Homo sapiens: one gene and its partner. The protein of the gene in region 1 purifies or fractionates together with the protein of each later gene. This does not show direct contact. Each region holds a gene or a part of one and is shown on either strand. Other genes may lie near its edges.

Region 1 (4,024 bases):
AGTTTACACTCCCACCAGTGGTGTAAGGAGCTCCCTTTTCTCTACATCCTCACCAGCATCTGTTATTTTTTGCCTTTTAAGTAATAGCCATTTTTTGAGATGGGGTGAGACGATCTCATTGTAGTTTTGATTTGCACTCCCCCAGTGATTAGAAAAAATGTTGGCTGGGCCTGGTGGCTCAGATCTATAATCCCAGAATGTCGGGAGGTAGAGGCAGGAGGATCGCTTGAGCCCAGGAGTTTGAGACCAGCCATGGCAACATAGTGAGACCCTGTCTCTAAAGAAAAAAAAAAAATTAGCTGAGTGTAGTGGTACTACACTCAGCTACTCAGGAGGCTAGGGTGGGAGGATTCCTTGAAGCCGGGAGGTTGCCGCTGCAGCGAGCTTTGGAGTCCAACCAAGTGGACTCACGCTACTGCATTCCAGCCTGGGCAACAGAGTAAGACCCTGTCTCAAGGAAAAAAAAAAAAGAAAGAAAGAAAGCAAAGCAAAGAAAAAAATTTGGGCATTTATTCGTATACGTATTGGCCATTTTGTATGTCTTTGGGTCTTTGGCCATTTTTTAAGTGAGATTATTTGTCCTTTTACTGTTGAGTTGTTTGATTTCCTTATATAGTCTGGATATTAGCTCTCCATCAGATAACTAATTTGTAAATATTTTCTCCTATTCAAGAGATTGGCCGGGCATGGTGACTCACGCCTGTAATCCCAGCACTTTGGGAGGCCAAGGCAGGAGGATCACCTGAGGTCAGGAGTTCAAGACCAGCCTGGGCAACATAGTGAAACTCCGTCTCTACTACAAATACAAAAAAATTAGCCGGGCCTGGTGGCACATGCCTGTAGTCCCAGCTACTCAGGAGCTGGGAGGCTCAGGCAGAAGAACTACTTGGACCAGGGAGACGGAGATTGCAGTGAGCCAAGAAAAGGCTGGGCACGGTGGCTCATGTCTGTAATGCCAGTACTTTAGGAGTCCGAGTCTGGTGGATCACCTGAGGTCAGGAGTTCGAGACCAGCCTAACCAACGTGGTGAAACCCCATCTCTATTAAAAATATAAAAAAATTAGCCGGGCGTGGTGGCACGTGTCTGTAATCCCAGCTAGTCTGGAGGCTGAGGCAGGAGAATCGCTTGAACCTGGGAGGAGGAGGTTACGGTGAGCCGAGATCGCGCCATTGTACTCCAGCCTGGTTGACAAGAGCGAAACTCCGTCCCCCACAAAAGAAAAGAAAAGAAAAGAAAAGAAAAAAATAGGTTGTCTCTTCATTCTGTTAATTGTTTCTTTGCTATTTAATTAATTAATTAATTAATTTTTTTTTCCTCTTTTTTTGAGACGGAGTCTCACTCTGTTGGCAGGCTGGAGTGCAGTGGCACGATCTTGGCTCACTGCAACCTCCGCCTCCCGGATTCAAGCAATTCTCCTGCCTCAGGCTCCTGAGTAGCTGGGACTACAGGTGCATGCCACCACGCCCAGCTAATTTTTGTATTTTCAGTAGAGACGGGGTTTCACCATGTTGGCCAGGATGCTCTCGATCTCTTGACCTCGTGATCCGTCCACCTCAGCCTCCCAAAGTGCTGGGATTACAGGGGTGAGCCACTGCGCCTGGCCAATTCATTTATTTATTAGAGAGGATATGACATTGTTACCCAGGTTGGATTGCAGTGGCGCAATTTTGGCTCATTGCATCCTCGATTTCCCAGGCTCAGGTGAACTTCCCACCTCAGCCTCCCCAGTAGCTGGGACTATAGGTGTGCACAACCACGCCCAGCTAATTTTTGTATCTTTTGTAGAGATGGAGTTTCAACATGTTGCTGAGAATGGTCTTGAATTCCTGGGCTTGAGCAATCCACCTGCTGTGCCAGCACCTGGTCTTATTTTAATTTTATTTATTTATTTTGAGATTGAGTCTTGCTCTGTCGCCCAGGCTGGAGTGCAGTGGCGCGAACTCAGCTTATTCTAACCTCTGCCTCCTGGGTTCAAGTGATTCTCCTGTCTCAGCCTCCCAAACAGCTGGGACTACAGGCATGCGTCACCATGCCCAGCTAATTTTTGTATTTTTAGTAGGACGGGTTTTCATCATATTGGCCAGGCTGGTCTCAAACTCCTGACCTCGTGATCCACCCGCCTCGGCCTCCTGAAGTGTTGGGATTACAGGCGTGAGCCACCGCGCCCAGCCGTATTTTTATTTTTTAATAAAAAAATATTTTTTTTAGAGACAAGGTCTTGATCTGTTGCCAAGGCTGGAGTGCAGTGGTGAGGTCAAAGCTCATTGCAGCCTCAAAGTACTGGGCTCAAGTGATGCTCCCGCTTCAGCCTCCTGAATAGCTGGGACCACAGGCATGCTGGTTATATTTAAAAGTAAAACACTGGCTGGACATGTTGGCTCATGCCTGTAGTCCCAGCACTTTGGGAGGCTGAGATGAGTGGATCACTTGAGGCTAGGAGTTCAAGACCAGCCTGGCCAATATGGTCTCTATTAAAAATACAAAAATTAGCTGGGTATGGTGACGCGTGCCTGTAGTCCCAGCCACTTGGGAGGCTGAGGCACGAGAATCGCTTAAACCCTGGAGGCGGAGGTTGTAGAGGGCCAAGATCACGTCACTGCAGTCCAGCCTGGGTGACAGAGCAAGACTCTGTCTTAAAAAAAACAAAAATTAAAATAAATAAAATAAAATAAAAGTGAACCACTAAAAATCAGATTGCAGTGTCTTTATGCATGAGCCAGGGCTTGTTTGACCTCATGGTGACCTTTAATTTGGGAAAACCTGCCGGGCGCGGTGACTCATGCCTGTAATCCCAGCACTTTGGGAGACTGAGGCTGGCGGATCACCTGAGGTCAGGAGTTCGAGACCAGCCTGACCAACATGGAGAAACCCCGTCTCTACTAAAAATACAAAATTAGCCGGGCGTGGTGATGCATGCCTGTAATCCCAGCTATTTGGGAGGCTGAGGCAGGAGAAGCACTTGAACCCGGGAGGCGGAGGTTGCAGTGAGCCGAGATCACACCATTACACTCCAGCCTAGGCAACAAGAGTGAAACTCCATCTCAAAAAAAAAAAAAAATGCCAGGTGGTGCAGTGGCTCACGCCTGTAATCCCAGCACTTTGGGAGGCCCAGGCGGGCAGATCACGAGGTCAGGAGATCGTGACCATCCTGTCTAACACAGTGAAACCCCGTCTCTACTAAAAATACAAAAAATTAGCCGGGCATGGTGGCGGGCACCTGTAGTCCCAGCTACTCGGGAGGCTGAGGCAGGAGAATGGTGTGAACCCAGGAGGCGGAGCTCGCAGTGAGCCGAGATTGCACCACCGTGCTCCAGCCTGGGCAGCAGAGCGAGACTCCGTCTCAAAAAAAAAAAAAAAAAAATTGGGAAACCCCTACCTGTCTGTACCTGTAGGTCTTTTCTCTGGGGTCTGGAAGAAGAATCCTTCAATATCTTGCCTTCTGGTAATCTGAGAGCAGGGCGAGAAAAGGAAGATCAGAGTTCCACCCTTAAATCTGTAGGTTTTCACTCCCCCACTCTCCTTTGCAGTCCCGTGGAGTCTCCATCTGAGCCCTTTCCTAGTCCAGGCATCCCGATGTTGGTGGATGGCCCATCTGAGCGGCCAGCCCTGTGCTTCTTGCTGTTGGCTGTGGCAATGTCTTTCTTCGGCTCAGCTCTATCCATAGATGAAACACGGGCGCATCTGTTGTTGAAAGAAAAGATGATGCGGCTGGGGGGGCGGCTGGTGCTGAACACCAAGGAGGAGCTGGCCAATGAGAGGCTCATGACGCTCAAAATCGCTGAGATGAAGGAGGCCATGAGGACCCTGATATTCCCACCCAGCATGCACTTTTTCCAGGCCAAGCATCTCATTGAGAGAAGTCAAGTGTTTAATATTCTAAGGATGATGCCAAAAGGTAAGGTTTGGAAAGGGGTGGCTTGGGGTGCTGGGAAGGTAGAGGGACTCATCTTGGGGCTATTACTGTGCTTGTGGCTGTTGCTATTCTAGATGGAGCAGAGAAAGCCTCACTCAGCTGTTCTGCTC
Region 2 (3,500 bases), on another chromosome or scaffold:
TGCTTGTTTTCATTTTTGTTTAAAACTTAAAATGTGGGATAGTGAGACAATGGAACCCTAGGGAACACCCTCCATGTGAAGGTCAGCTGCTACAATCAACAGCCACTCCGAAGGCCCCTTGAAAGCCCTAGCATACAATTTGCCAAATGCCTCCCATTTGCTAAAACACTGTCACATGCCAGGGTCCAGCTGTTCCGAGTGTCTTACCATACAGTTCATGGCAAAGTGATTGTGCTGCGTCTGAAGCTCCATGGCATGAGGGTGGCTGGTCCCAATCTCTGTGTAGCTGTTTAGAAACAGGCCTTTGTTGTGTGTGATCCAGTCAAACATCTACCGGAAGGAAAAAGACAACCCGCAATCACTCCAGAAAGAGAAATTACTGACACAAGCCCACAGATGGGGCAGTACCAAGAAAGGGCAACTTCCTTCCCTGGACAACTTCAAGCGCTGTCTGATTCTCTCAGAAGAGTCTTTACTTCGAAGAACAAGTCAGCAGTTCTGAACTTGCAGGACCTACCAGAAAATCTTATCTGATGTGTTCCTCTTACAGAGAAGGAATTAAGAAGCAGATAAGTAAAGAGAGTTACTCTAATCCCCCAGGCTGATTAAAAACTCTGATCCTCTGACTCTCAGCCCAGTCTCCCTGCCACGCTGAACTACTTAATTTGCCACAGTGAGGTTCAATTAAAGACCCGTTAGGGTGAAATTAGGAACTTATGGGTCTCTGGATGGGTTCTGCTGTGCCCACAGGTTACTGACAGAAATATCAATGACTAAAAGATTCCACTGTTTGATCAAGAAGTACACAGACACCTGTGCAGATTGCAAAAACATAAAATTTACTATAAAAAAGGTGGGAAAAACTAACTATGACATCTCCCTTAAGGTTCAATATAGATGTTACTTGGACAAGGATGTCAATTAAGACATTTGCAATGAAAACATTTAAGAAAATATAGATGACTATCATCAATTAGCATTGCTACCATGACTTGAACCAGAATCCCAGTGACAGTAACCTGGTCTTCCAGTAATTGAAAAGAAGGTATTCCAGTCTCTTAGACAAGGTGCTACTTAAAACAAAAGAACACTGACAGATACATTAAAAGCTTTAGTAATAAAAACACTGGATTATCACCTTTTGAAAAGTCCTTTTACATCCAAGAATTCTAATGTGGTTTTTTACTTTACAAAATATTCTCCTGTCCATGTAATATAAAATTCAATGAGCTCCAATAAAACTCAATGATTAATTCACCCATGTTCATGGCTTGCAACACATACCTATGGGTAAGTGCCCAGTTTCCACATTGCTAAGATTCAATTAGCCAGTAATTGATAAGGATTCACTTTGACCAGTTGGTCTGCCTGGTGCATAAGAATAAAACATGAGACTAGAGGTGATTACCAACTATATTACCCAGAAACTGTTACTTTTAACACATTACTCATCTTGATTTTAAAAAACATACTCAATAGATTGGAATGGTGTTTTGTCAATAACATAACCCTGTGAAATTTTCACTTTTTTTTTTTTTTTTTTTTTTTTTTTTAAGACGGAGTCTCACTCTGTCGCCCAGGCCGAAATGCAATGGCACGATCTTGGCTCACTGCAACCTCTGCCTCATGGGTTCAAGCGATTCTCCTGCCTCAGCCTCCTGAGTAGCTGGGATTACAGGCGCGTGCCACCACACCCGGCTAATTTTCGTATTTTTAGTAGAGACGGGGTTTCACTATGTTGGCCAGACTGGTCTCAATCTCCTGACCTCAGGTGATCAGCCCACCTCGGCCTCCCAAAGGGCTGGGATTACAGGCGTGAGCACGGCCGAAATGTTCACTCTTTTAAGTGAAAATATCATTCCTATCTTACAGGCATCCTAGACCAAAGAATAAGTAATTTGAACTCAAAATTTCTAAAACAGCACTGTATTGCACAACGAGTAAAACCGGAAAACAGATTTCAGTGCCATTTCTGAAATGACTCTCGCTGGTTTAGAGCACACACGGTGAGTATAGCCTTACCATTCTCCACCTTTTCTCTTTCCTTCCACCCGAACCCACCAGCGCTGGCTTCCCCCATGTCCACTGAGGCATTAGCCTCCCCCGTCTTTACCTTCTCAGCATCCTGTTCAAACAGCCTCAGCTGGAAGCACTGGTCCAGCTTCAGCTTCCTCACATGCCACATCTGGTGCAGATGCTGCCGTGTCGAGTGCAGCCGGTCCAGCATGGTGGACACCTTGGGCAAGAGGTTCTGCAGGTCCGCATTGCCTGAGCCTGAGTTCTTTTTGGGAAAGCTTTCACTGCTCTGTATCCTCTGAAGCAGCTTCTGTCCCTCCAAATCCAGGTCCTCGATGGGGGCCTTAATCACCTTCTTCTTCAGCTGAGAATGTTCCTCGATCATATTCCGAGCCCCCTCTAAATCCTGAGGCAGCTCCTTCTTAGCTAGGATGTCCTGAAGTTCCTCCAGCCGAGACAGCATGTGGGTGGCATTGCTAATGTAGTCTTCAAAAGCAACTCTGATTTCAATCCATTCTTCGTGGTTGTATTCCAGGCAGCCATCAAACTCAGGAGTTAGCTGAGAAGGATCAACTACTTTGGTAAGGCCTTCTAAAGAGACCATATTTGTCTTAAGGGAAAAAAAATCACGTATGAGAAGATGAACCAATTTTATATAGTTTTAACATAATGCAATTTGCAATGCTCAGTCACAGGTTTTCAAAGTTAAAGTAATCTATTTATAGAAAACATAACATACCTGGTTCTGGCCCCATAAAAATAAATGTAGATGAAAGAAGCATTATCAGTACAATGAAAGACAAATCCATTATAGCAACACATATATGTCAGCTGGAATACCCAAAACTGTAGAATCGTGTATTTCATGAGAGCTAAAGAAATGAGATTTCTTTCCAAGAAGATGGAGATTAACCCACTATAACAGACACATTAAACTAGGAAACAGGTTAAATTGCAAGTTCAGAGCAAACAATTCAGAAATTTCACTTACATCAATGCATTCTTCTCCCCATTCTTTTTCATCCATGCCAGAAACTCTGTGGAGGTTTTCTACTACTTGCTATTACACAAACGTCTTGCTCAAGGGCATCAAAACCCTTTTAAGTGTAACATCACTCTAAATTCAATTACGTGTGGGCTGCCTATTAAACGATGAATGCTGCTCCAACCAGACCACCCTATCATTCATCTTGCCTAAGCCTAACCCCACTGCCCATCAAATAACAGATGATGGGATATGAATGAATTTATAAAAATTTAGAAAATATTCAAGAGTTGGCAAGAAAGCTGGCAGAGGCTCATTTGACAGAGCTAAGGATAGAGGCAATGTTTTATTCATTGCAATAATCTGCTGTGATTCTGAACAGTCCTAGAGTTGTATATAATCTGTACTACATTGCAATTTAACAGTGACAAAGTTTTAGTCAATTACAGTCTAAGCAAGAAATCTTTATATTTATTATTATTATTTTTTTTTGAGATGG

What was found.
Region 2: the proteins of ADA2 (region 1) and TRIO purify together in Homo sapiens (affinity purification with mass spectrometry; one large-scale study listed by BioGRID and IntAct). This does not show direct contact.

The regions. Positions count from the first base shown.
Region 1 is NC_000022.11:17,209,228-17,213,251, reverse strand, and holds part of ADA2 (adenosine deaminase 2 isoform a precursor), read left to right. Parts: intron 1-3,528; 5' UTR 3,529-3,574; coding exon 3,575-3,896; intron 3,897-4,024. UniProt on the Homo sapiens protein: Adenosine deaminase that may contribute to the degradation of extracellular adenosine, a signaling molecule that controls a variety of cellular responses. Requires elevated adenosine levels for optimal enzyme activity.
Region 2 is NC_000005.10:14,289,842-14,293,341, reverse strand, and holds part of TRIO (triple functional domain protein), read right to left. Parts: intron 2,627-3,500; coding exon 2,114-2,626; intron 331-2,113; coding exon 208-330; intron 1-207. UniProt on the Homo sapiens protein: Guanine nucleotide exchange factor (GEF) for RHOA and RAC1 GTPases. Involved in coordinating actin remodeling, which is necessary for cell migration and growth. Plays a key role in the regulation of neurite outgrowth and lamellipodia formation.